Linked DNA regions of Homo sapiens. The protein of the gene in region 5 purifies or fractionates together with the protein of the main gene of each other region. This does not show direct contact. Each region holds a gene or a part of one and is shown on either strand. Other genes may lie near its edges.

Region 1 (3,500 bases), on a different chromosome or scaffold from region 5:
TTTCAGTAGAGATGGGGTTGCACCATGTTGGCCAGGCTGGTCTCAAACTCCCAATCTCAGATGATCCGCCCACCTTGGCCTCCCAAAGTGCTGGGATTACAGGCGTGAGCCACTGCACCTGGCCCTGTTGCAATGTTTTTCCAGGGAGGGAAAGAGTTATCTGCATTTCAGCCTGTTCTGTTTTGGGAGTACTGGGGCTGAGGAGAAAGGGCAGGGCCATCAAAGGGCTCACATTGTTATTGTAGTCCGTGGTGGCAGCAGCACCCAGAACCTCGTAGTAGCGCTGCAAGAAGGGCTGGAGGCGACTCTCCAGCCGCTGTAGCTCCTGGAGCACCTCGACATACTCCGCAGGGGAAGGATGGCTGTGGACAAACCCAAGGGGCAATGAGCCAAAGCCTTCCTCAGATTCCCACCCTCACAGTCAACAGGGACCACATGTGCCCTCTTTCTCCCTGGTCTCCCAGAGCCCTGGCCCAATCCTTCTCTGGACCAGCAGAGCTTCTATTCTCTTCAACCTCCGCCTCCCAGGTTCAAACGATTCTCCTGCCTCTGCCTCCCAAGTAGCTGGGATTAAGTTGCCTGCCACCACACCCGGCTAATTTTTGTTTTTTTTTTTTTTTTTTTTTTTTTGAGACAGAGTCTCGCTCTATCACCCAGGCTGGAGTGCAGTGGTGCGACCTCAGCTCACTGCAAGCTCCGTCTCCTGGGTTCACACCATTCTCCTGACTCAGCCTCCCGAGTAGCTGGGACTACAGGTGCCCGCCACCATGCCCAGCTAATTTTTTGTATTTTTAGTAGAGACGGGGTTTCATCATGTTAGCCAGGATAGTCTCGATCTCTTGACCTCATGATCCACCCGCCTCGGCCTCCCAAAGTGCTGGGATTACAGGCGTGAGCCACTGTGCCCGGCCTGTATTTTTTAGTAGAGACAGGGTTTCACCATGTTGGCCAGGCTGGTCTCGAACTCCTGACCTCAGGTGATCTGCCCGCCTCTGCCTCCCAAAGTGCTGAGATTACAGGCATGAGCCACTGCACCCAGCCAAAGCTTCTATTCTTTACTCCCACCCATGAGAGGATAGGGAGAAGAAAATGAACTGCTCCCACCCTCCCCACCACAATCCTGCACCTACAATGGTGAAAGACTAATTCTAAGAAAGAGAGCAGGCCTTCGTGAACTCAGAGGAGAATTCCGATCAGGCTCAGGAGATACCATTTGGATTTCCTTGCCGTAGGGAGAGCAGCAGTTCTTCTCAGCTGCCTGTCCTAGCGTCATTTACCTATACCGAGAGAGCCCCTCCTCGCCCCTCAATGCTAACCCTTCAACTAAGACCTCCAAGTAATCCTTTCCCTCCCTTGCCATGGTTCATTTCCTTCTCCCCATACTTCACTTAGGATTCCCCACCCACTAAAGATTCCCTCCATCTCTCACTTGGGTGCATTTGTTTCCGGGGCAGGTGTTGGGCCCGCTGGGGCTGGGCCAGGAGTGAGCTCCGGGTTCTGGGCTGGGGCACGCTCCTCCACTTCTTCTGCCTCCATGGGCTCCCGGGGAGGTGCTTCACTTTCAACTGGTTCTGATGTTTGAGAGCTCAAGGCTACTGGCTCCGGGGTCACAGCCGGTGGCTGCGGGGGCGGCTGACTGTGCTGCGGTTGGGGCCCTCCTCGACACTGAAGGTAGGGGAGAGTCAGGATACCAAAGGCAGGGTAAGACTGCTGCAGAGGATTACTCTACAGGAGACTGAACAGAGAAAGTATCCTAACTAGACTCCCTGAAGGCATGGCTCTGCAATTTTATCTCCGACTCGCTAGCAACTAGCATAAGACTGACACAAATTAGATGCATAATAAGCATCTGTAATTTTTTTTTTTTTTTTTGAGACAGAGTCTCGCTCTGTTGCCCAGGCTGGAGTGCAGTGGCATGATCTCAGCTCACTGTAACCTCCGCCTCCCAGGTTCAAGAAATTCTCTTGCCTCAGCCTTCTAAGTAGCCAGGCCTACAGGCGCGTGCCACCACACCCAACTAATTTTTGTACTTGTAGTAGAGACAGGGTTTCACCATGTTGGCCAGGCTGGATTGGAACTCCTGACCACACGTTATCCCCCTGCCATGGCGACCCAAAGTGCTGGGATTACAGGCAGGAGCCACCACACCCGGCCACAGCATCTGTAATATTTGTAAATAAATTTCTAACAAAGAGTAGAGATTGTGGTTTCCTTTCCTCCACAAGTTGGTTTCCCAGCCTCCACAAGTTAAGAGAGTAGAATCCTTTAATTGAAAAGAGATGCCATGAGACTAAGTCTGAAACAAACTCCCCAGATACCAGGCACCAAGAGGATTGGCAGAAATGAGAGAGCCTCACAAAGATACTTTTTCTGCCCAAAAGAATGAATACTGCAGAGAAGACTAGATTATGAAGGCCAAACCCTGTGGATGTGGCCAGTGAAGCCCTAACTCCCAGGCTGAGAGAAAAGGGAGAGGGAGGGTGGAGAGAGACCCTAGCCAGCCTTGCCCACTTACCTCCATCCGGGATAGTAAGGTCTGTATATCCCTGATCATGTGCTGAGCCATCACCAGCCGTACCCGGGGCTCACTCTACAATGAGAGAAGGTTTATCAGGGTAGGTTACAGATGAAGCCATGAGTTCTACCACCTACTAAATCAGGTCCCAGCCATCTCTCAGCCAGGTCCACCCCACCTCCCAGCCTCCTTCTCCCAGATCCCCTTCCCTGACCCTCGGAGGCCCCTCAATACCTGAATCGGGGCCTGTTCCATGTTGATGTGAACATCCACAGCAGAGCCGTCACTCTGGGGAAAGGGTAAGGGAAGTTGTTCTGGGAGAAGCCAACACTAAGGCCTCCACACCTCCAATTCATTCCCTGGAGCCCTACCTCCTTTTCTCCTTAAAGACTGAGACCAATAGCACACCACAGGGCCCCCTGAACCCAATCTAAAGATGGAAGCATCTATCTTATTAATTCCCTGGTGCTACCACAACCAAAGCTACCCACAAAAGCCCTCCCCTGTGGAACATAAGCTTACAGGAAGATTGAAGGTTCCAACCATGACATAGCTGTTGGCATTCCGGTCATGAACAGAGGCCCCAGGCCCCCGAGTACCAGGGGGGGATCCCCCACCATGAGTGGCTGAGGCAGACCCCGTCCCAGAAGATGCCCCAGAAGGGAGGTGAGTCTGAGGAGGAGCCCGTTCCACCAGGTGGATAACCTTTCCCCCAACATCTGCAGAAAAATAGACACACACCAAAACATAGTATGAACAGGTAAACCCATGGCCTCAGTTCATCCCTCCAGACAGTAGCCCCAACCTCTGAACTGCCTCCCCAGCCCCCTTACTGTATTCCTGAAGCTTCTTATCATCTTGCAGAACTCGTCCCTGGTAAATGAGCCGTTGTTTTTCAGATGGGATGCTGACAGAGGCAGCAATGTGCTCCTTAAACTCTTTTACATTCATCTGAAAAGAAGAGGCATGCACAGGAATGGAAAGA
Region 2 (3,500 bases), on a different chromosome or scaffold from region 5:
AAATACAAAAATTAGCTGGGCATGGTGGCGCGAGCCTGTAGTCCCAGCTACTCGGCAGGCTGAGGCAGGAGAATCACTTGAACCAAGGAGGCGGAGGTTGCAGTGAGCTGAGATTGCGCCACTGCACTCCAGCCTGGCAACAGAGCGAGACTCCATCTCAAAAAAAAAAAAAAAAGAAAAAAATCTTAACAGCTGCTAATTTCCCTCACTCAGTCGAAAGAATTAAAGGAGAGGATATGAATTACCTTTTTCAGCAGAGAGTTTACTAACATCCATGGTCTTATTTAGTACTTTGATAGCTAAAGCAAGTGCTGACTTCAAGGTCATTTCTCCTTCTTTATAGTCTTGTTTCAACATTGACACAGCTGCCTATAAAACATGAATCAACATAGAATTTTAAGTTTTTACATTTTTTAGAAACATGAATTGGTCTAGAAGAAAAATGCCTGAATTATTATTGGCATTACAAGTATAAACAATTTTTTTTTTTTTTTTGACACAGGGGCTCACTCTGTTGCCCAGGCTGGAGTGTAGTGGCATGATCTCAGCTCACTGTATCTTCAAGTCTCCCCAGGCTCAGGTGCTCCTCCTCCCACCTTGGCCTCCTGGGTAGCTAGGATTACAGGCACATGCCATGGCGCCCAGCAAATTTTTGTATTTTTTGTAGAGATGGGGTTCTGCTATGTTGCCCAGGCTGGTCTCGAACTCCTGAGCTCGAGCAATTTGCCTGCCTCGGCCTCCCAAAGTGTTGGGATTACAGGCATGAGCCACCATGCCTGGCCCATATACATAATTTTGATGACAGGGAGGGCACACACGGCACGGGGTGAGAAGAGGGGGTACTAATGCTCTATAAAGAGTGTCTTTAACCTGGGGTCCTCAGTCTCCCAAGGGGTCTGTCATAGAATACAGGGGGTCTGTAAACTAGATGTGAAACAAAATCACAGCTTCTAATTTCACAACTCCTAACTGAAAATTAGCATTTATTAATGTAGTTAACGAACCCCAGTATATTAGCTATATCAGCAATGCTGTCACCAACAGAAATCACAGATATTTCCATATCACATTAAGGTTGTTGCAGCTATCTTAAAATACTGTTTACATTCATCACCATGGCAAAATTATGGCAGTTATTAGACATTCTGCTAGATTTTATAGCACAACAAAAATACTCACAGCGCTATTATTTCCAATGCATGTGGCCTTCCATCCCCCGTAATTTCCACTAGGGTCACTCTGATAGAGCTGAAAGCCATAGTGCTTATCCCAGCCAATGTACAGCAATGAAACACCAAAGGGACGTTTTCCTTTAACAAAGAAAAAAAGCCAAACATATCAATAATCTAAATTTAGTATCACTACAGTTACTTGAGCTCAGTGAAGGTAGCTAAACCCTACTCTGTGAACTTAAGCATTCATAAACTGTTTTGTATTCTGGCTACCATAGATAAGCTCCATTACAAATTCGACTTTTGTTTCTACGATTTGGACACAGCCAGAAGAGGGAACAGACAAAGGACCAGTGCTGAATTTCATTATTATGTAAACAGCAGTTAGTTTCCAGATTTGAAAATGTTGTTTTGGACTTTCAATATCCTATTAATAAAACGAGGGTAATCTACATGGTGGAGGAACACGTTCATTCATGAAGCAAGAATGTATGAAATTCTAGTGTTCTATACTACTGTAGGATTAATATAGTTAACCATAACATATTAGTTTCAAATAGCTAGAAGGATATGGAAGGCTCCCAACACAAGTGTTTGAGATGATGAATGTGCCATTTACCCTGATCTGATCATTATGTGCACTGAAACATCATTATGTACCTCATGAATATGTACAATTCTTATTTGCCAATTAAAAAAATTAAATTTAATTTAAAACAAAGGGTCTATTTTCAATTTTTTACTACCTCAAAAGGGTTATAACTCATAAAATGTCTTAACTTTTTCGAATAAAATTTTCAAAAAAATTAAATACCTCCAAATTGTGTATAAGCTTGTTTGATATCACACAGCGCTGTAACCAACTGCTCACAAGGTATTGGCTCCTGATACTGTAATAAATACCTAGGATAAAGAGATGGGCACATTAGTAGTTTTCTCTAAAACACAGACAGACTCTAAGGAAAATATTCTCTGAAAAGCAATCTATGCCATGGGGACAACCTAACAGTCATTTGTAATTTGAAGGGGAGGGAACAAGTCAACATCTGAATATTCTCATAGTAAATAATATTTTGTAAGTTTGGTTGAAAAAAATCTGTAATTTTCAATTCAAAGATTTTTAATGACTTTAATCTTTGCAAAAGTGAGCTCTCCTTAGAAACATCAAAACTAGGCCAGGTGCAGTGGCTAATGCCTGTAATCCCAGCACTTTGGGAGGCCAAGGCAGGCGGATCACGAGGTCAGGAAATCGAGACCATCCTGGCTAACACAGTGAAACCCCGTCTCTACTAAAAATACAAAAATTAACCCGGTGTGGTGGTCAGCTACTTGGGAGGCTGAGGCAGGAGAATCGCTTGAACCCGGGAGGCGGAGGTTGCAGTGAGCCAAGATCGTGCCACTGCACTCCAGCCTGGGTGACAGAGTGAGACTCTGTCTCAAAAAAAAAAAAAAGAAACATCAAAACTAATTTCTGTATCATCAGTTATGCTATTTATGACCATACCTTTGAGCAATGAGCCTTAGTTCATTAGTCAGAACATTAGCATCAGAAGTTATGCCTGCCACACTGCAAGCCATGTCCCTTGAAGAAAAAAAGACATTGATCTGTAAGCAGGGAAGATGCTTGCAAGGAGTGTTTATAAGTATTTAAAAAATTCTAATTTCTATTAGAAATTCACTATGTTTGCTTCACAACAGCTACTTCCTTCAGAAAAAACCTACAAGTTTTATCTTTGTAGGAGATGTTTACTCGATGTCACTCAACATGAAAGATAAACAAATGCACCCTTTAAGTTATTTAATAGATGTATTTATCATTACCACCTATGAATAGGATAACAAAATTAACGCCAAGAAGCTAATGTAATCTCAAGAAGATTCAGCAACAAAGAATAAAAAGACAGGCTTGCCACAATGGCTCACGCCTGTAATCCCAGCACTTTGGGAGGCCGAGGTAGATGGAGGGCTTGAGCCCAGGAGATCAAGAACAGCCTGGGCAATACGGCAAAATCCCATCTCAACAAAATATACAAAAACTAACTGGGTGTGGTGGTGCGCACCTATAGTCCCAGCTACTTGGGCGGCTGAGGTGGGAGGATCACTTGAGCCCAGGAGGCAGAAGCTGCAGTGAGCCAAGATGGCGTCACCGTACTCCAGCCTGGGTGACAGAGCAAGAATCTGTCTCAAAAAAAAAAAAAAAAAAAAGATTTTGCTAGACAGACTGCTCTTGAGTAATATTCATTTCCTAAGGCCTGGCTTGACAGAGGTGACAGGGGACAATGGCAGGAGGGTTTACAAGCCTGCTTAGGAAGTACAGGGCTAGGCTCC
Region 3 (3,500 bases), on a different chromosome or scaffold from region 5:
CGGAGTGGCACTGATACATGCTCCAGTGACCCAAAGGCTGTGGGATGGCAGCGGAGACTTCTCTTTCTTGGGAGCGGCAAGATGCTTGCCTATGGCATAGTTGTCATCTCCTCCCATCAGGGAAGAACCAGTCTCCATTTCCTGGTGTGGCAACATGTCACCACAGGATAGATAAATGTTCATTAATGGGTAACAGTCAAGCTAGCTCCCCAAATTGATTCCTGCCATTCTTAAATATTACATTACAAAGGGGATGGAGGATGAAGAAATGCTACTGTGGTTTAAACCTCTCCCTTCTCAAACATATAAAGTGCAAGAAGTAAGGATACAGCGGGGTTTTGTTTTGTTGTGTTTTTTGAGACAGAGTCTCACTCTGTCACCCAGGCTGGAGTGCAGTGGCACGATCTCGGCTCACTGCAACCTCCGCCTCCCAGGTTCAAGCGATTCTCCTGCCTCAGCCTCCCAAGTAGCTGGGACTACAGGCGCACACCCCCACACTTGGCTAATTTTTGTAATTTTAGTAGAGACGGGGTTTCACCATATTGGTCAGGCTGGTCTTAAAACTCCTGACCTCAGGTGATCCACACGCCTTGGCCTCCCAAAGTGCTGGGATTACAGGTGTGAGCCACCGCGCCCGGTGGGATACAGCAGTTTTAAAAAGTGAGGCAGCTCTGCCTGGCCGCCCCACCGACTGGGAAGTGAGGAGCGCCTCTGCCCGGCCACCCAACTGACTGGGGAGAGAGGAGCACCTCTGCCCACCTGCCCCACCGTCTGGCAAGTGAGGTGTGCCTCTGTTGGGCCACTGTGCAACCCTCCAAGTGTGAAGTGACAGCCTTGTGTGTGATCTTTCTGCCCTCCCCAAGTTTGCATTTTCCACATTAAATTTTACTTTTTCATTAAAAAAAAAAAAAAAGTGAGGCAGGCCTTGGCCCTGTCAGAACAGTGTCCTCACTAAAGGGTTTCTCCTTACTGAGCTGCCCCACAAAAGGTCAGGTGCCCCACAGCAGCCTACCTGAGGGCAGGCAACCCCTTGAGAAGCTCATTGTATTTATTATTATTATTTTTTGAGACAGAGTCTTGCTCTGTCCCCAGACTGGAGTGTAGTGGCACAATCTTGCCTCACGGCAACCTCCGCCTCCTAGGTTCAAGCGATTCTCCTGCCTCAGCCTCCTGAGTAGCTGGGATTACAGTCACCCGCCACCACGCCCAGCTAATTTTTGTATTTTTAGTAGAGATGGAGTTTCACCATGTTGGCCAGGCTGGTCTCGAACTCCTGACCTCTTAATCCACCCATCTCAGCCTCCCAAAGTGCTGGGATTACAGGCGTGAGCCACCGCGCCTGGCCATATTTATTTTTTTTTAAAGATGGCATCTCACTCTGTTACCAGCCTGGAGTGCAGTGGCATGATCACAGCTGACTGTAACCTTGAGCTCCTGGGCTCAAGCAATCCTCCTGACTCAGCCCTTTTTTTTTTTTTTTTTTGAGACAGAGTTTCACTCTGGTTGCCCAGGCTGGAGTGCAATAGCACAATCTTGCCTCACCACAACCTCTGCCTCCCAGGTTCAAGCGATTCTCCTGCCTCAGCCTCCTGAGTAGCTGGGATTACAGACACGCACTACCACATCCGTCTAATTTTGTATTTTTAGTAGAGACGGGGTTTCTCCATGTTGGTCAGGCTGGTCTTGAACTCCTGGCCTCAGGTGATCTGCCTGCCTTGGCCTCCCAAAGTGCTGGGATTACTGGTATGAGCCACTGCGCCCGGCCAACTCAGCCTTTTAAGTAGCTGGGACTACAAGTGTGTGTCACCATGCCTGGCTAAATGTTTTTTTCTTTTTGTGGTAGAAATGGTGTCTCACCATATTGCCCAGGCTTGTCTCAAACTCTTGGCCTAAAGCAACCCTCCTGCCTCAGTCTCCCAAAGGTGAACCACCACACCAGGCCAAAATACACTTTTAAGAGGTAAACGTTCTGTGAGATAGAGTTGTCACCGAAGTTACTAACTCATTCTATGTATTATCCACCCACGACCCAGTAAATTGATGCAAGAAATAGTTTTGTCAAGAGAAATGATTTTAGGCTGTAATCTCAGCACTTTGGGAAGCTGAGGCGGGTAGATTAACTGAGGTCAGGAGTTCGAGACCAGCCTGGCCAACATGGTGAAACCCCGTCTCTACTACAAATACAAAAATTAGCTGCTGCCGGGTGCAGTGGCTCACGCCTGTAATCCCAGCACTTTGGGAGGCCAAGGTGGGCAGATCACCTGAGGTCAGGAGTTCGAGACCAGCCTCAACATGGAGAAACCCCGTCTCTACTAAAAATACAAAAAAAATTAGCCGGGCGTGGTGGTGCATGCCTGTAATCCCAGCTACTTGGGAGGCTGAGGCAGGAAAATTGCTAGAACCTGGGAGGCGGAGGTTGCAGTAAGCTGAGATTGCGTCATTGCACTCCAGCCTGGGCAACAAGAGCGAAACTCAGTCTCAAAAAAATAAATAAATAAATAAATTGCCCGGATGTGGTGGTGCATGCCTGTAGTCCCAGCTACTCAGCAGGCTGAGGCAGGAGAATCATCTGAACCTGGGAGTCGGAGGCTGCAGTGAGCCGAGATTGCACCACTGCATTCTCACCTGGAGGACAGAGTGAGACTCTATTTGGAAAAAAAAAAAAAAGAGAGAAATGATTTTGGAATCCTCAAATAGAGAGATCAGGAACTTCCATCAATCAGAGACCTTACAGAGGCAAGGGCAGAAGGAACCTGCCAAATTAAGCAAACAAGGGATAAAAAATCCTAGAGCCCAAGATGGAGGCCAGAAGACGAAGAGTTAACAAAACTCAAGTGGTGTCAAGAGGCAGCTGGTGAAGTTCCTGCCTATGCTTTAGAAAAGCATTTTTCAAACAGAGTACTGATCAACAGTGGGTCAGGAAATCAATTTTGTAGGTCATGACCAGCATTTTAAGAGACCAAATGGGACAAAAAAATACCAGCACACAGTGCACATAACAGTAAATACTGTTTTGCTGAATGTGTTACATGGCTGTACGCCTGTGTTGGGTTAAATGTAAGAAGTGTATCATTGTGGGATTTGAAAGGCCCCTATTGAAAAAAAAAAGCCTGAACATTCAAAATCTGTCCAACTTTTTTTTTTTGGAGATGCAGTTTCGCTGTCATTCAGGCTGGAGGGCAGTGGCGCAATCTTGGCTCACTGCAACCTCGACCAGCCAGGTTCAAGCAATTGTCCTGCCTCAGCCTCCCACGTAGCTGGGACCACAGGCGCGCACCACAATGTCCGCTTATTTATTTATTTTTTTTTTTTGAGACGGAGTCTCGCTGTTACCCAGTCTGGAGTGCAGTGGCGCAATCTCGGCTCACTTCAAGGTCCGCCTCCCGGGTTCAAGCGATTCTCCTGCCTCAGCCTCCCAAGTAGCCGGGACTACAGGCGCGTGCCACCACATCCAGCTAATTTTTGTATTTTTAATAGAGACAGGGTTTCACCATATTGGC
Region 4 (3,500 bases), on a different chromosome or scaffold from region 5:
TCTGATATTAGGTATGAGGTTAATTTCCAAAATGGAATAGAATGTGGTGGTGCCTATGTGAAACTGCTTTCTAAAACACCAGAACTCAACCTGGTATGTAATTCCCATTTCTGGAATGTGGCTGGACACCCACTATTACCTTGTAAGAATTTTGTAATTGGGCCGGGTGCAGTGGCTCACGCCTGTAATCCTAGCTCCCAGCACTTTGGGAAGCCAAGGCAGGCGGATCACGAGGTCAGGAGATTGAGACTATCTGGCTAACATGGTGAAACCCCATCTCTACTAAAAATACAAAAAATTAGCCAGGCGTGGTGGCAGGCGCCTGTAGTCCCAGCCACTTGGGAGGCTGAGGCAGGAGAATGGCATGAACCTGGGAGGCGGAACTTGCAGTGAGCCGAGATTGCGCCACTGCACTCCAGCCTGGGCGACAGAGCGAGACTCCATCTCAAAAAAAAAAAAAAGAGAATTTTGTAATAATTGTGAAAATAAAGGCTTCCTCCCCTGCTGTTTAACTCTTTTGATGAGTTGGGAAAATTGACTTTGACGCTAACGTGCTTTTTATTTGAAGTGTAAATTACAAAGTTGTTACCAACTGTTTTTATCTGAATTTCTGGTTTTGCTTCTGTGTAAGTTTTAGTTTTGGCAAGCTTATTTCTTTGTTTTATGAGGAAGCAATAACTGTCTAGATGTGTGCATTACTTTTTTTTAGACACTTAAACGTTATTTTAAATTTACTGATGATTGCTGGTTATTCCTTTTTACTAAACAAACTTGTAGTTAGCTTTTCCTTTAACTGTCACTAATATATTTGGAATTTTATAAGAGGAATTATCATACACTTTTGAAACGTTGCTTTTGAACACTTTGAGTACAGTGACTTCAAATAATCCTTTTTTGTTTTTGAAGGATCAGTTCCATGACAAGACCCCTTATACGATTATGTTTGGTCCAGATAAATGTGGAGAGGACTATAAACTGCACTTCATCTTCCGACACAAAAACCCCAAAACGGGTATCTATGAAGAAAAACATGCTAAGAGGCCAGATGCAGATCTGAAGACCTATTTTACTGATAAGAAAACACATCTTTACACACTAAGTAAGAAAAAGCATTAGTTTGGGGGCTTATGGTATTACATATATATCATCCATTTAATTTAAAGATTGTATATCTGGCCGGGCACTGTGGCTCACGCCTGTAATCCCAGCACTTTGGGAGGCCGAGATGGGCAGATCACCTGAGATCAGGAATTCGAGAACAGTCTGGCCAAAATGTTGAAACTTCACCTCTACTAAAAATACAAATATTAGCTAGGCATGGTGGTGCACGCCTGTAACCGAAGCTAGTTGGGAGGCTGAGGCAGGAGAATTGCTTGAACCTGGGAGGGAGCCAAGATCATTGTGCCACAGCATTCCAGCCTGGGCGAAAGTGAGACTCAATCTCAAAAAAAAAAAAAAAGGCTGGGCGCGGTGGCTCACACCTGTAATCCCAGCACTTTGGGAGGCCGAGGCGGGTGGATCACAAGGTCAGGAGATCGAGACCATCCTGGCTAACATGGTGAAACCCCGTCTCTACTAAAAATACAAAAATATTAGCCGGGCGTGGTGGTGGGCACCTGTAGTCGCAGCTACTTGGGAGGCTGAGGCAGGAGAATGGCACGAACCCGGGAGGCAGAGCTTGCAGTGAGCCGAGATCGCGCCACTGCACTCCAGCCTAGGAGACAGAGCAAGACTCCATCTCAAAAAAAAAAAAAAAAGATTGTATATCTGGAGAGTACCCCAGCCTCCAAACAAGAAGAATCTCAGCCTGGTATGGTTGCTCATGCGTGTAATCCCAGCACTTTGGGAGGCTGAGGCGGGCGGATCACTTGAGATCAGGCATTCGAGACTAGCATGGCCAACATGGTAAAACCCCGTCTCTACTAAAAATACAAAAATTAGCTGGGCGTGGTGTTGAGTAGCTGGTGTAATCCTAGCTACTCGGGAGGCTGAGGCAGCAGAATTACGTTAACCCAGGAGGCAGAGGTTGCAGTTGAGTCAAGATTGTATCACTGCACTCCAGCCTGGGTGGCAGAGGAAGATTCTGTACCCCCTCCACGAAAGAAAAGAATCTCTTCACTTTAGTATCTTAGTTGGGAAATGACCTTAATTTGTCAGCATTAAAAGAAGCTTCTTGGCCACGTATGGTGGCCCACACCTGTAATCCTAACACTTCGGGAGGCTGAATCGGATGGATTGCTTGAGTCCAGGAGTTCCAAACCAGCCTGACAACATAGTCAGACCCTGTCTCTACAAAATCTTAAGAATTAACTGAGTATAGTGGCATGTGCCTGTAGTTTCAGCTACTCAGGAGGCTGAGGTATGAGGATTGCTTGAGCCCAGGAAGTCGAGACTGTAGTGAGCCATGATCTTGCCACTGCACTGTAGCCTGGGTGACAAAGTGAGATGCTGTCTCAAAAAACAAAACAAAAAACCCAAAAAACTTCTTTTCCACAGGAACTGAGGTTCGAGATAATTTTAAGAATAGAATAGGTGTTTTTGGCCAGGCATGGTGGCTCGTGCCTATAATCCCAGCACTTTGGGTGGCCGAGGTGGGCGGATCACCTGAGGTCAGGAGTTTAAGACCAGCCTGGCCAACATGGTGAAGCCCCATCTCTACTAAAAATACAAAAATTAGCCGGGCATGGTGGAGGGTGCCTGTAATCCCAGCTACTCAGGAGGCTGAGGCAGGAGAATTGCTTGAACCCTGGAAGCGGAGGTTGCAGTGAGCCAGATTGTGACACTGCACTCCAGCCTGGGCGACAGGAAGACTCTGTCTCAAAAAAAAAAAAAAAAAAATTGGTATTTTTTGCTGGACATGGTGGCTCATGCCTGTAATCCCAGCACGATGGGAGGCTGAGGCGAGCAGATCACTTGAGGTCAGGTGTTCAAGACCAGCCTGGCCAACATGGTGAAACGTCATCTCTACTGAAAATACAAAAATTAGCCGGGTGGGGTGGTGGGCGCCTATAATCTCAGATACTCAGGAGGCTGAGGCAGGAGAATCACTTGAACCCGGGAGGCGGAGGTCACGGTGAGCCAAGGTCATGCCATTGCACTCCAGCCTGGGCAACACAGTGAGACTCCGTCCCCCACTCCAAAAAAAAAGGTGTTTTTTTTTTTTTTTTCTACAAAGAGCTTTGCTGATCTAATTTCTTCCTTTTTTTTGTTGTTGTTGTTGAGAAATGTTGAATAATAGAATAAGTTATATTTATAATTATACATAAATCCAATAAAAATAGTTTTTCAGAAGTATCTTGTAGTTGAACTTATTTGGATGCTCCAATACCTGGACAATTGACAATTGAGTTGAATCATTTTGATACAGGGTTTTTTTTGGTTTGTTTGTTTATTGAAGCTTTTCCTGCTAGTTTGAGATCATAAATAGGCATGCCTCTTTCTGAAGAATATAATAACCTTTTTTTTTTTTGAGATGGAGTTTCACTCTTGTTCCCCAGGCT
Region 5 (3,500 bases):
CACACCAGATGGCACACCACTAAACAGCATTCTCCAAGAGCCAGTGATCAAAGTTCATTTGCCCCAAACCCTCTCAAATCACTAACCATTCACCCTTTGATTTCTCATTCTAGCTTGCTCCCGCTCTGCAGTCTGTCCACAATCTTTCTCAAAGGGGGCAGGACAGGGAGCACCAATGTAAAATATCTTCCCTTTATTGCTCTTCTGTCTGTAACATACCCCAGCATAAGAAATATGCTATAAACATGAAGGAGGGCATGGGTGCAAAAAGGATGTGTTCATAAGTGCTCCAGCTCATAAGCCCAGTTCAAAATTGGGTCTAGCTAGACATAAGATGAACCAAATATCTCACCATTGATCAAGAAGAAGAAGGCTCCAGTCTCATTTGCTACAGCTCGAGCAATCAGGGTCTTTCCTGTTCCAGGAGGTCCGTAAAGCAGGATTCCTCTAGGAGGCTGTGGACCAATGCAGAGTGTGATTAGGTTCCCACCTTCTCCCAAACCCTAAAATGGCTTGACTAGCGCTCCAGAGAGGGTGAGAATCAGGCTTCAACCCTGACAATATTAAGAATAAGCCCTCCGCAGTAAATGCTAAGAAGACAATTACTTTAGGCCACACTCATTTCTATTACTAGCAGGGAAAATACTGCTAGAAAGTGGGCAACATTTATGATTGCAACTTGCATAGGAGACTAAGGGCAGAGAAACTGTAGTCCAAATGCGTTTGAAGATACATGACTAGGGAAAGGCAAGAGGCCATTACACTAAGGGCTCAATTTTAGACAGACCAAGGGCCAAAGACTAGCTAAGCCATTTAAGAGAGCAGGGTCTATTTTCTTCATTGCCAGAGGATCACTCACTCCAGTAATCATGCCCTCCAGAATTTATCACACTGGAATGCTGTTCCTTACAATCATCATTTTTCTTCTTCAACACTACCCTTTCTATGGCCTCATCCACAAGCAGAACATGTAAACTGTCCACATAGAAAATGAAATTATTTGTGTGCCACCCACTAGGAAAATGAGTAACTTCATCTTCAGTGTGTTCCATGGAAACACTTTCCCACTAGGAAAAGATTGAGAAGCTACACTCTAGACCAATAGTTCTCAAATGTTTTAGACTCAGAACCCTTTAACACTCTGAAAATTTCCTTAACTTCCTTACTTCTACTGGGTGACATTGCTCTAGACAGGCTGGCAAACTATGGTGAGATTTGTTTTTACAGGGTCCATTGATACAAGAATGGCTTTTATATTCTAAGAGTTGTAAAGAAAAACCCATATATATATGTGTGTGTGTTTTGTGCGCACACGCACACAACAGACAATTTGATTAGCCTACTCTGGTTTTAGACCATCAGCTCTAATGAATTTAGAGCCTTAGGTAAACTAAAGGATACGTTATTGCCCCTCTAATCCAAGGCAATAATGAAAGCCATGCATGAAAACAGTCCCAGGATTAGACATTGGGACAGGATTAGACATTGGCACCACTTTAGACTTGATTCCAGAGCCCAGGATGCTCACCTTCACACCAATTGCCTTAAAGAGGGCAGGATGTCTCAGGGGCAGTTCCACCATCTCCTTTATCTGAGCTAGCTGCTTCCTGCAGCCACCAATGTCATCATACCCTACTTCATTCAAGGACTCTTCCTCATCCTGAATATGGAGGAGATAAAGAAAGGAGAAGGCAAGAATATTATATCAGCAAAAGCTGAGTTTCTCTAAATCATTCCACTACCTAGTGTGCAAAAACCTACCGTATAAGAAGATTCTCAACCCGGCATGGTGGCTCACATCTGTAATCCCAGCACTTTGGGAGGCAGAGGTGGGAGGAATGCTTGAGTCCAGGAGTTCCTGGGCAATACAGCAAGACTCCATCTCATTAAAAATTAAATTAAATTTAAAAAAGATTCTCCTCTAAAGGGATCCGGCCTCAAAGAACAACTACAAAAATCCCAAGGCAAAGATTTCTAGCACAGTCCTTGCCTCTCACATTACTCGTAGTCTTACTGAGAAGGGGTCTCTAAAATCTGAAGCTGGAAACCCTGGGAATGGGCAGAGGCCTGAAGCCACCATCAGCTTTACTTCAAAAATGATTTCAATCACTTATATATTTTGGGTTCAGTCTAGTTTTTTGAAATTCCTGGCATTAGGTAAATCCAAGAAACAATTAGGCCCAGAAATGAATAGCTGGCAGGTTTCTCATCCCTGAAAGATGGTTAGTTCTCCAAAGAACACCCAGTCTTTTTCTTTTTTGAGACAGAGTCTCACTCTGTCACCCAGGCTGGAGTGCAGTGGCACAATCTCAGCTCACTGCAACCTCCGACTCCTGGGTTCAACCGATTCTCCTGCCTCAGCCTCCTGAGTAGCTGGGATTACAGATGTGTACCACCATGCCTGGCTAATTTTTGTATTTTTAGTAGAGATGGGATTTCACCATGTTGCCCAGGCTGGTCTTGAACACCTGACCTCAAGTGATCTGCCCATCTCAGTCTCCCAAAGTACTGGGATTACAGGTGTCAGCCACCGCAGCCGGCCGAGCACCCAGTCCTGACAGTTACCACATGATGCCACACTGAGTAATCATAAAATCGGATACTGGAATCAGGGAGAAAACTCACCTCTCGTTTGATAGGCTCCCCTTCGCAGTGGATCACTGTGTCTGGAGCAACAATGCAATAAGGGCTAGGATCTGTTTCCACCACTTTGAACTCCACAGCACGCATCCCACCACGGACAAGAAAAATGTCTCCTGCGAGAGCAAACAGTACAAGCACAGTTAGAGGTGTCAACTACAAGACAAAGTGAGAACTCATCAGACCCTGGGGTCAAAATGCCAAGCTCATTAGATAGTGCCCTTCATTAGATATTGCCCTACCTCTCCCCAACTCCACCCCACCTGTCTTAATAAGCAGCAGGCAAGATGAGAAAGGTAAACTGTGAAGAGTCCCTCTGACAAGAGGTCAGTGAACAAAACCTGACATGTCAGAAGCCCATCAAGTTCTGACTTCTGCCATATAGGTAGCCCAAGTTTTCACTACAACCACCAATGGTAGAACTGTGCACTCTGGACCCTGACCCAGCCAAAATGGACCACTTTCTCCTTCAGAGATCCATAAAGATAGCTTACTCTCCTGGAACAGAGAAGGGGAGAGATGGAGCAAAGGAAGGATGGAGGAAAAAAAGAGGGTAAGACATATGAATATGTGTGCAGGGTTTGCATGTGTGTGTATACAAATATATGAAAATGAGTCTAGCGGCCGGGCACAGTGGCTCACCTGAGGTCAAGAGTTCGAGACGAGCCTGACCAACATGGTGAAACCCCGTCTCTACTAAAAACACAAAAATTAGCCGGGCGTGGTGGCAGACGCCTGTAATCCCAGCTACTTGGGAGGCTGAGGCAGGAGAATTGCTTGAACCCAGGAGGCGGAGGTTGCAGTGAGCCGAGATTGCACCACTGCGCTCCAGCCTGGGGGACAGCGCGACACTCTGTCTC
Region 6 (3,500 bases), on a different chromosome or scaffold from region 5:
GCCTGCAACTCTGCCCCCAGGGCCCATCTGCTACCACTCATTAGGCATTCCCACTCAGGCAAGCACCCAAGCACCAAAACTGATTCCTCCCTTCTGCATGAAGCTTCACCTTTTGGTCATTGTCCTTTCCCATTGCTTAGTTCAACTGAGTACCAGGCACCAAGCTCTCCAGCTACGTATAACACTCATGCCCCTTCACCCGTCTGCCCCCAAGAACCACGGTCCTCCAACAGGTGCTTGGAAAAAAGTCCAAATCAGAGAACTCACCCCTCTCCAATCTTTCCTACACATACATATTACTCCTACTTCAAATAATCTCCATGACATACAATTGGGTCAAATGCCAATACCAGAAAAACCGGTGACTGTTATTTTGTCTGACATTTCCACTTTCTCTAAACAATAACCCCTTTAGTACGAACCATCTTTGCCACTGTAGGTCTTAGCTAAGTATGGAATAAATCAGGATTCCAAGCCCTTCTCGTGTGACTAATACTTTATTAAAGACTGACAGCAATAGTTCTGGCAGTGTGGCTGGGCACTTGAATTTTGGCTCCAGCAGTTACTGTTATCTAACCCTTTGCTACTGTACATGTGGTCACATCAGACCAACAGCATCATTTGGGAGGTTATTAAAAAACGTATCTAGGGGCCAGGTGTAGTGGCTCACTCCTGTAATCCCAGCACTTTGGGAGGCTGAGGCAGGATTGCCTGAGCCCAGGAGTTCAAGGCCAGCCTAAGCAACATGGCAAAACCCCATCTCTACCAAAAAAAAAAAAAAAAAAAAAAAAAAAAATTACAAGAATCAGCCAGGCATGGTGGAACACACCTGTAGTCCTGGCTACTTGGGAGGCTGAGGTGGGAGGATGGCTTAGCCCAGGTCAAGGTGGGGGTGAGCTATGATGGTGCCATTGCACTGCAGCCTGGGAAAGAGACCATCTCAAAGAAAAAAAATTTAAGACGTGTCTGAAGCCTCACCTCAAGCCTATAGAATTAGAACCTGCATTTTGTTTTTAAATTTGAGAGTCAGGGGTCTCCGTCACCCAGGCTGGAATGCAGTGGTGCAATCATGGCTCACTACCTCAACCTCCTTGGGCTCAGGTGGTCCTCCCACCTATAGGCAGGTGCCATCACAGCATGCAAATTTTTGTTTTGGTAGAGATGGGTTTTCACCATGTTGCCCAGGCTGGTCTCGAATTCCTGGGCTCGTGATCCACCCAACTTGGCCTCCCGAAGTGCATGAGCCACCAGGTTGACCCCAAACCTGCATTTTAATATCTACAGGTGATTCACATCCATTTTAGTTAGAGAAGCACTGGCTCAATCTGAACCCGTTTCCTCACTTACAAAATGATTCTATAACCACTTAATTCAGGCCCAAATTAAACAGATAAACCAAGAAGCTGGGCAGTGGCTCATGCCTATAATCAAAACTTTGAGAGGTTGAGGCAGGAGGATCACTTGAAGCCAGTTGAAGACCACCCTGGGCAGCATAGCAAGGCCCCATCTCTACAAGAAATAAAAATAGCTGGGCATGGTGGTGTGCACCTGCAGTCCCCAGCTACTTAGGAGGCTGAAGCAGGAGAATCACATGAGTCCAGGAGCTCGAGGCTGCAATGAGCTATGTATTATCATGCCACTGCACTCCAGCCTGGGTGACAGAGCAAGACCCTCGACTCAGGTGGTTTCATCTACCAGCCTCATACATCCAACTTTAACTGGATCAAGTATTTAAGTCAGCTCGACATTTAAAATGGAAACTTCAATTTTATTAACAATTTACGGCAATAGACATTTACAGAACAAAAATAAGACAGTTCCAAGACAAAGGAGTGTAAAAGTACAGCACACAGGTTAATACTCTTCACCCTCATCCTCTCCGTCAGCACTATCTGCTCCAACCTCCTCATAATCCTTCTCAAGGGCAGCCATGTCCTCACGGGCCTCTGAAAACTCGCCTTCCTCCATCCCCTCACCCACGTACCAGTGAACAAAGGCACGCTTGGCATACATCAGGTCAAACTTGTGGTCCAGGCGAGCCCAGGCCTCGGCAACAGCTGTGGTATTGCTCAGCATGCACACAGCTCTCTGTACCTTGGCCAGGTCTCCGCCAGGCACCACAGTGGGAGGCTGGTAATTAATGCCAACCTTGAAGCCAGTGGGGCACCAATCCACAAACTGGATGGTACGCTTGGTTTTGATGGTGGCAATGGCAGCATTGACATCTTTGGGAACCACGTCACCACGGTATAACAGGCAGCAAGCCATGTATTTACCATGGCGAGGGTCACATTTCACCATCTGGTTGGCTGGCTCAAAGCAAGCATTGGTGATCTCTGCTACAGTAAGCTGTTCGTGGTAGGCTTTCTCAGCAGAGATGACAGGGGCATATGTGGCCAGAGGGAAGTGGATGCGGGGGTAGGGCACCAGGTTGGTCTGGAATTCTGTCAGGTCAACATTCAGGGCTCCATCAAATCTCAGGGAAGCAGTGATGGAGGACACAATCTGGCTAATAAGGCGGTTAAGGTTAGTGTAGGTTGGGCGCTCGATATCGAGGTTTCTACGACAGATGTCATAGATGGCCTCATTGTCTACCATGAAGGCACAATCAGAGTGCTCCAGGGTGGTGTGGGTGGTGAGGATGGAGTTGTAGGGCTCAACTACAGCTGTGGAAACCTGGGGCGCCGGGTAAATGGAGAACTCCAGCTTGGACTTCTTGCCATAATCAACTGAGAGACGTTCCATGAGCAGCGAGGTGAACCCAGAACCAGTTCCCCCACCAAAGCTGTGGAAAACCAAGAAGCCCTGAAGACCGGTGCACTGGTCAGCCTGCAAAATAAAAAAGTTTCATTTTAGTGTTGCGAAAGTTTCATTTAGTGTTCACATTTGGTGAAACCTACAGAGGACTTCTATAAATCTATGGCTACTCCAATTGCAATTTTAAAACTCTTCTGGGCCAGGCGCAGTGGCTCACGCCTGTAATCAACACTTTGGGGGTCCAAGGTGGGAGGACCATTTGCATTTGAGCCCAGGGGTTCAAGACTGATGATCAGGCCACTGCACTCCAGCCTGGATGACAGAGCAGACCCTGTCTCCAAAAAAAAAAAAAAGCTTTTAAGTGCTAAGTGATTCAGAACAACTTTTCACAATCAAGTCCTTGAGCAGAAAAACCTTTGCTAAGACTATTTTAAGATGAACTATTGCCTTAGGCAGAGGAATCACAAGGCCTGGGCTTGCATACAGGGCTCAAGTTTTGGTAACTGGGAAGGCAGCCTCTGGTTCTCTTGCTGTGGCCACAGAACAGGGCAGTTTCTTAGTTGGAGAGGTCCTAAGGGGCAGGCCCAGGACCACCAGCCTGGTACAGTGGATGTCTTGTAAAGATTTGGCAGCTGCTTTCTGAGGTGGAACAACAGAATAGCCAAAGTTCTAACACCCTGGTACTGGAGTCAGGCTGTGTCAGGATCCGGCTGTACCAGTTCCTTACTGTATGACCACATTCA
Region 7 (3,046 bases), on a different chromosome or scaffold from region 5:
AAATTAGAATGAATACTTAATATCCTCCTTTTAAATCCATACCAAAAACAAGCCCCAAATATATTTACAACCCTGGAAATGATGTGTACTACTTTTATTTAAAAAAATAAGAGTAAAGGAACTAACTAGATGTATATGGTGCCAATTTTTAAAAGTCTTGCTTAACTCCACAGGTCTCAAAATAGCTAATAAAGAAACCATGTCTCCAATCATTTCAATACAAGCTGTAAAAATGCCTTAAAAATCTCAGGTCTGGCATTACTTCCATTTAAACGCATCAAGATAAAAGTTCACTGAAACATCAGCTGCCACCATTACTTTAGGAATCTTTATCTGTTTAGGGATTTTTCCCCTAGACTATTATAGCCAGTTTGTCAATCAAAAGTAGCATTCAGTATGCTTAACTTTCATTATCAAAAAAGTGATCTGCTAAGAAGTGACAATCAGATTAAATCCAAGAAGTCCTTGGATTTTGTATTTTACAAGAATTCAACTTTCCCAATTAAGTCATTAGTCATTAAGATAAGTACCCTTCCCAAATGTGATTCAACAGCCTGGTTTTTAGCAAATAAAAACCCCATATAAAATTCAATTTAAAAATTATAAACACACAGGGGTGTGCACACAGGTCAGAAACCAGGAAACACATGACAATAAACATGATCCTATTTGATTGTTTTTATGACTTTTAAGAAGTGAGCATGAAAATAAATCTTTATTTTCAGTTATTACCCACCAATAAGAGAAAGTTAGGTTCACAGTTTTAGCTCTTGACACAAAGTGAACTAGGAGGCAAATTTATATCCATCAGATACAACTAATGCACCAACTTTTTAAGTTCAGGCTATCTTGAAAGCTTGCAACATACCAGATATTGCTATGTTGTCTCTCACGACAGCAATGGATGACACTGAGAAGTTGTGTTTTGAGTAGCAGGTGTTTTCTATAGTATGTTGCTGGAAATCAAGAGGTTTATAAAACATGGTACATGTTTGGAAATGAGTTAGATACTTGAAAAGTCTAAACACACTGATTTAGGAGTGCGTATGTTGCTGTCTCAATGAACAATGGGTCAATAGTTCATATGGACTAAATTAATCTCTGGGTAGCACGTATGTGTGTAAATATAAAATTATATTAGACATTAGCACCAGTGCAGAACATGCTCAGCATCATAAGATCCAAAACACCAGCACAAGTTTATCCATCATTAAAAACAATTACCTCCTTCCTAAAATGTCAGAATAGTAGGTAACTGAGATTAATAAATCTTATCCAAAAAGTAACTCTTATAACATAAAAGTTTCTTTTAGAAGTATATGTGAGAACCAATCAGCTAAATAGAAATGTTTAAGATTGAAGATGTCCAATATTTTTAAAACTGGACATTACCATATACAGGTAGAACATTTCTAAAAATGACGTGACAAACAATTCTTAAAAATTTTTTAAAAATTCCTTCACTGTTTATCAATAAATGTGGCAGAATAAAAGACAATCCTAGAAAACTTTTTTAATTCATCATTCTATGTGTGTTTTAATAAGTGGTGATGCTCCCATTATAGGAATCCATTATTTACCTAATTTTCTAATGGAGGAAGAGAGAAGAGATAATTACCACTTTCTGTGGAATACTCAACTTACAACCAAATAATAGCAATCTAGGAAATTTAGAAACAGTAAAGGTTTTTGGTTTATATTTCATGTATAGTGCTGCTGTTCCAACCTTACAAAGTAAAGCTGTCTGCTTCCCAAATTCCAAAAATTAAAATACTCCCCCACCTCACCCTACCAACCAGCGCCCTTTGGTTTTTGTTTTAGAACAAGGAAGGGTTAAATGGTGGCTGATTATGGATGTACCATTTTGATTTTGGGACCTTTCACACACAGAAATCATACCAAATGGCCAGACACTTATTTTACAGAACAGTTTAAATATTACACATTGGCCAAATCAACTTATTCCACCCACCCTGGTGAAGGGGGAGAAAAAACCCATACCTATAAAACTACTTCACTTGACACGATGTGCCTACCAACAATAAGTAGTTTAAACAACTTTCACCAATTAAGATGTCTAGTTTAGATTTTAAAATGGGAAACTCAAGCATTTAAAAAGTAAATATAGCTGAAAATGTAAATCAGTTATAATTTGAACCTAATGAGCCATGCAAGGAGCAAGGGTTAATAAACCAAATGTGCTTTGAATTTGTTCAAGTACTGATATTTCTGTATATAAAGATTTAGCATATATATATAACAGCTATCATGAGAAGTGAAAAAAGATTTTTCCCCAAAAATGAAAATATTAAAACTAAGTTAAAATACATATAGTTAGTATTCCACACAGCATAAAATTTGACAAATCAAAGTTTAACATGTCCCAGTTGACCATGTGTGAATATGCAAAGCAGGTATTAAAACCAGTATGTCCAATATTTAAAACCAGTTTGTAATTGGGGGAACTTCTAAATCCTTAATTAAAAAACACAAATGAAGTGAAAGCTTTAAACTGGTACACACTGTTCACACCTATATTTCAAGTTTGGAAATGCATATTTGCAAGCAGCAATACAAAAGTATTCATGAAGAATGCATAATCTCTGAAAATTATGAAAACATCCCTGCTACCAATACATTTCTAAATACAAAACTGACTACCATATTTGTTACTTCTGTGTAGCGGGAGAAGTTCATTTTTAAAACAGATAAAATTCAGTCTTTAGGTGTGAATGGTATGAATGACAGTCTTTTTTTTTTTAATTTCTTAGTCGTTTGGAATCCTTAAGCATGCAAAAGCTTTGAACAGAAGGGTTCACAAAGGAACCAGGGTTGTCTTATGGCATCCAGTTAAGCCAGAGCTGGGAATGCCTCTGGGTCATCCACATCAGGAGCAGAAGCACTTGACTGAAAAAGAAAAACCAAAATTAACCACAGTTCTCAGTTCTTCAAAATTACATTGTTAGCTAGTGTCTACATTAAGACAGAACTCTAAAAAAATCTTACTGTTGGCCAGGCACAGTGGCTCACACCTGTAATCCCAGCG

The links.
Region 1: the proteins of VCP (region 5) and BAG6 purify together in Homo sapiens (affinity purification with western blotting; 4 studies listed by BioGRID, with this or other methods). This does not show direct contact.
Region 2: the proteins of VCP (region 5) and PSMA4 fractionate together in Homo sapiens (co-fractionation; 5 studies listed by BioGRID, with this or other methods). This does not show direct contact.
Region 3: the proteins of VCP (region 5) and STIP1 purify together in Homo sapiens (affinity purification with mass spectrometry; 4 studies listed by BioGRID, with this or other methods). This does not show direct contact.
Region 4: the proteins of VCP (region 5) and CANX purify together in Homo sapiens (affinity purification with mass spectrometry; 4 studies listed by BioGRID, with this or other methods). This does not show direct contact.
Region 6: the proteins of VCP (region 5) and TUBA1C purify together in Homo sapiens (affinity purification with mass spectrometry, with the first as the bait; 3 studies listed by BioGRID). This does not show direct contact.
Region 7: the proteins of VCP (region 5) and SERBP1 purify together in Homo sapiens (affinity purification with mass spectrometry; 3 studies listed by BioGRID). This does not show direct contact.

Annotation. Positions count from the first base shown.
Region 1 is NC_000006.12:31,646,162-31,649,661, forward strand, and holds part of BAG6 (large proline-rich protein BAG6), read right to left. Parts: intron 3,467-3,500; coding exon 3,349-3,466; intron 3,235-3,348; coding exon 3,038-3,234; intron 2,804-3,037; coding exon 2,750-2,803; intron 2,591-2,749; coding exon 2,516-2,590; intron 1,666-2,515; coding exon 1,430-1,665; intron 363-1,429; coding exon 233-362; intron 1-232. UniProt on the Homo sapiens protein: ATP-independent molecular chaperone preventing the aggregation of misfolded and hydrophobic patches-containing proteins.
Region 2 is NC_000015.10:78,543,444-78,546,943, reverse strand, and holds part of PSMA4 (proteasome subunit alpha type-4), read right to left. Parts: intron 2,755-3,500; coding exon 2,677-2,754; intron 2,076-2,676; coding exon 1,987-2,075; intron 1,311-1,986; coding exon 1,180-1,310; intron 370-1,179; coding exon 246-369; intron 1-245. UniProt on the Homo sapiens protein: Component of the 20S core proteasome complex involved in the proteolytic degradation of most intracellular proteins. This complex plays numerous essential roles within the cell by associating with different regulatory particles.
Region 3 is NC_000011.10:64,189,171-64,192,670, reverse strand, and holds part of STIP1 (stress-induced-phosphoprotein 1), read right to left. Parts: intron 1-3,500. UniProt on the Homo sapiens protein: Acts as a co-chaperone for HSP90AA1. Mediates the association of the molecular chaperones HSPA8/HSC70 and HSP90.
Region 4 is NC_000005.10:179,708,967-179,712,466, forward strand, and holds part of CANX (calnexin isoform d precursor), read left to right. Parts: intron 1-11; coding exon 12-93; intron 94-906; coding exon 907-1,099; intron 1,100-3,500. UniProt on the Homo sapiens protein: Calcium-binding protein that interacts with newly synthesized monoglucosylated glycoproteins in the endoplasmic reticulum. It may act in assisting protein assembly and/or in the retention within the ER of unassembled protein subunits.
Region 5 is NC_000009.12:35,062,626-35,066,125, forward strand, and holds part of VCP (transitional endoplasmic reticulum ATPase), read right to left. Parts: intron 2,757-3,500; coding exon 2,626-2,756; intron 1,661-2,625; coding exon 1,529-1,660; intron 456-1,528; coding exon 353-455; intron 1-352. UniProt on the Homo sapiens protein: Necessary for the fragmentation of Golgi stacks during mitosis and for their reassembly after mitosis. Involved in the formation of the transitional endoplasmic reticulum (tER).
Region 6 is NC_000012.12:49,271,582-49,275,081, reverse strand, and holds the end of TUBA1C (tubulin alpha-1C chain), read right to left. Parts: intron 2,830-3,500; coding exon 1,855-2,829; 3' UTR 482-1,854; downstream 1-481. UniProt on the Homo sapiens protein: Tubulin is the major constituent of microtubules, a cylinder consisting of laterally associated linear protofilaments composed of alpha- and beta-tubulin heterodimers.
Region 7 is NC_000001.11:67,410,357-67,413,402, forward strand, and holds part of SERBP1 (SERPINE1 mRNA-binding protein 1), read right to left. Parts: intron 2,908-3,046; coding exon 2,851-2,907; 3' UTR 1-2,850. UniProt on the Homo sapiens protein: Ribosome-binding protein that promotes ribosome hibernation, a process during which ribosomes are stabilized in an inactive state and preserved from proteasomal degradation.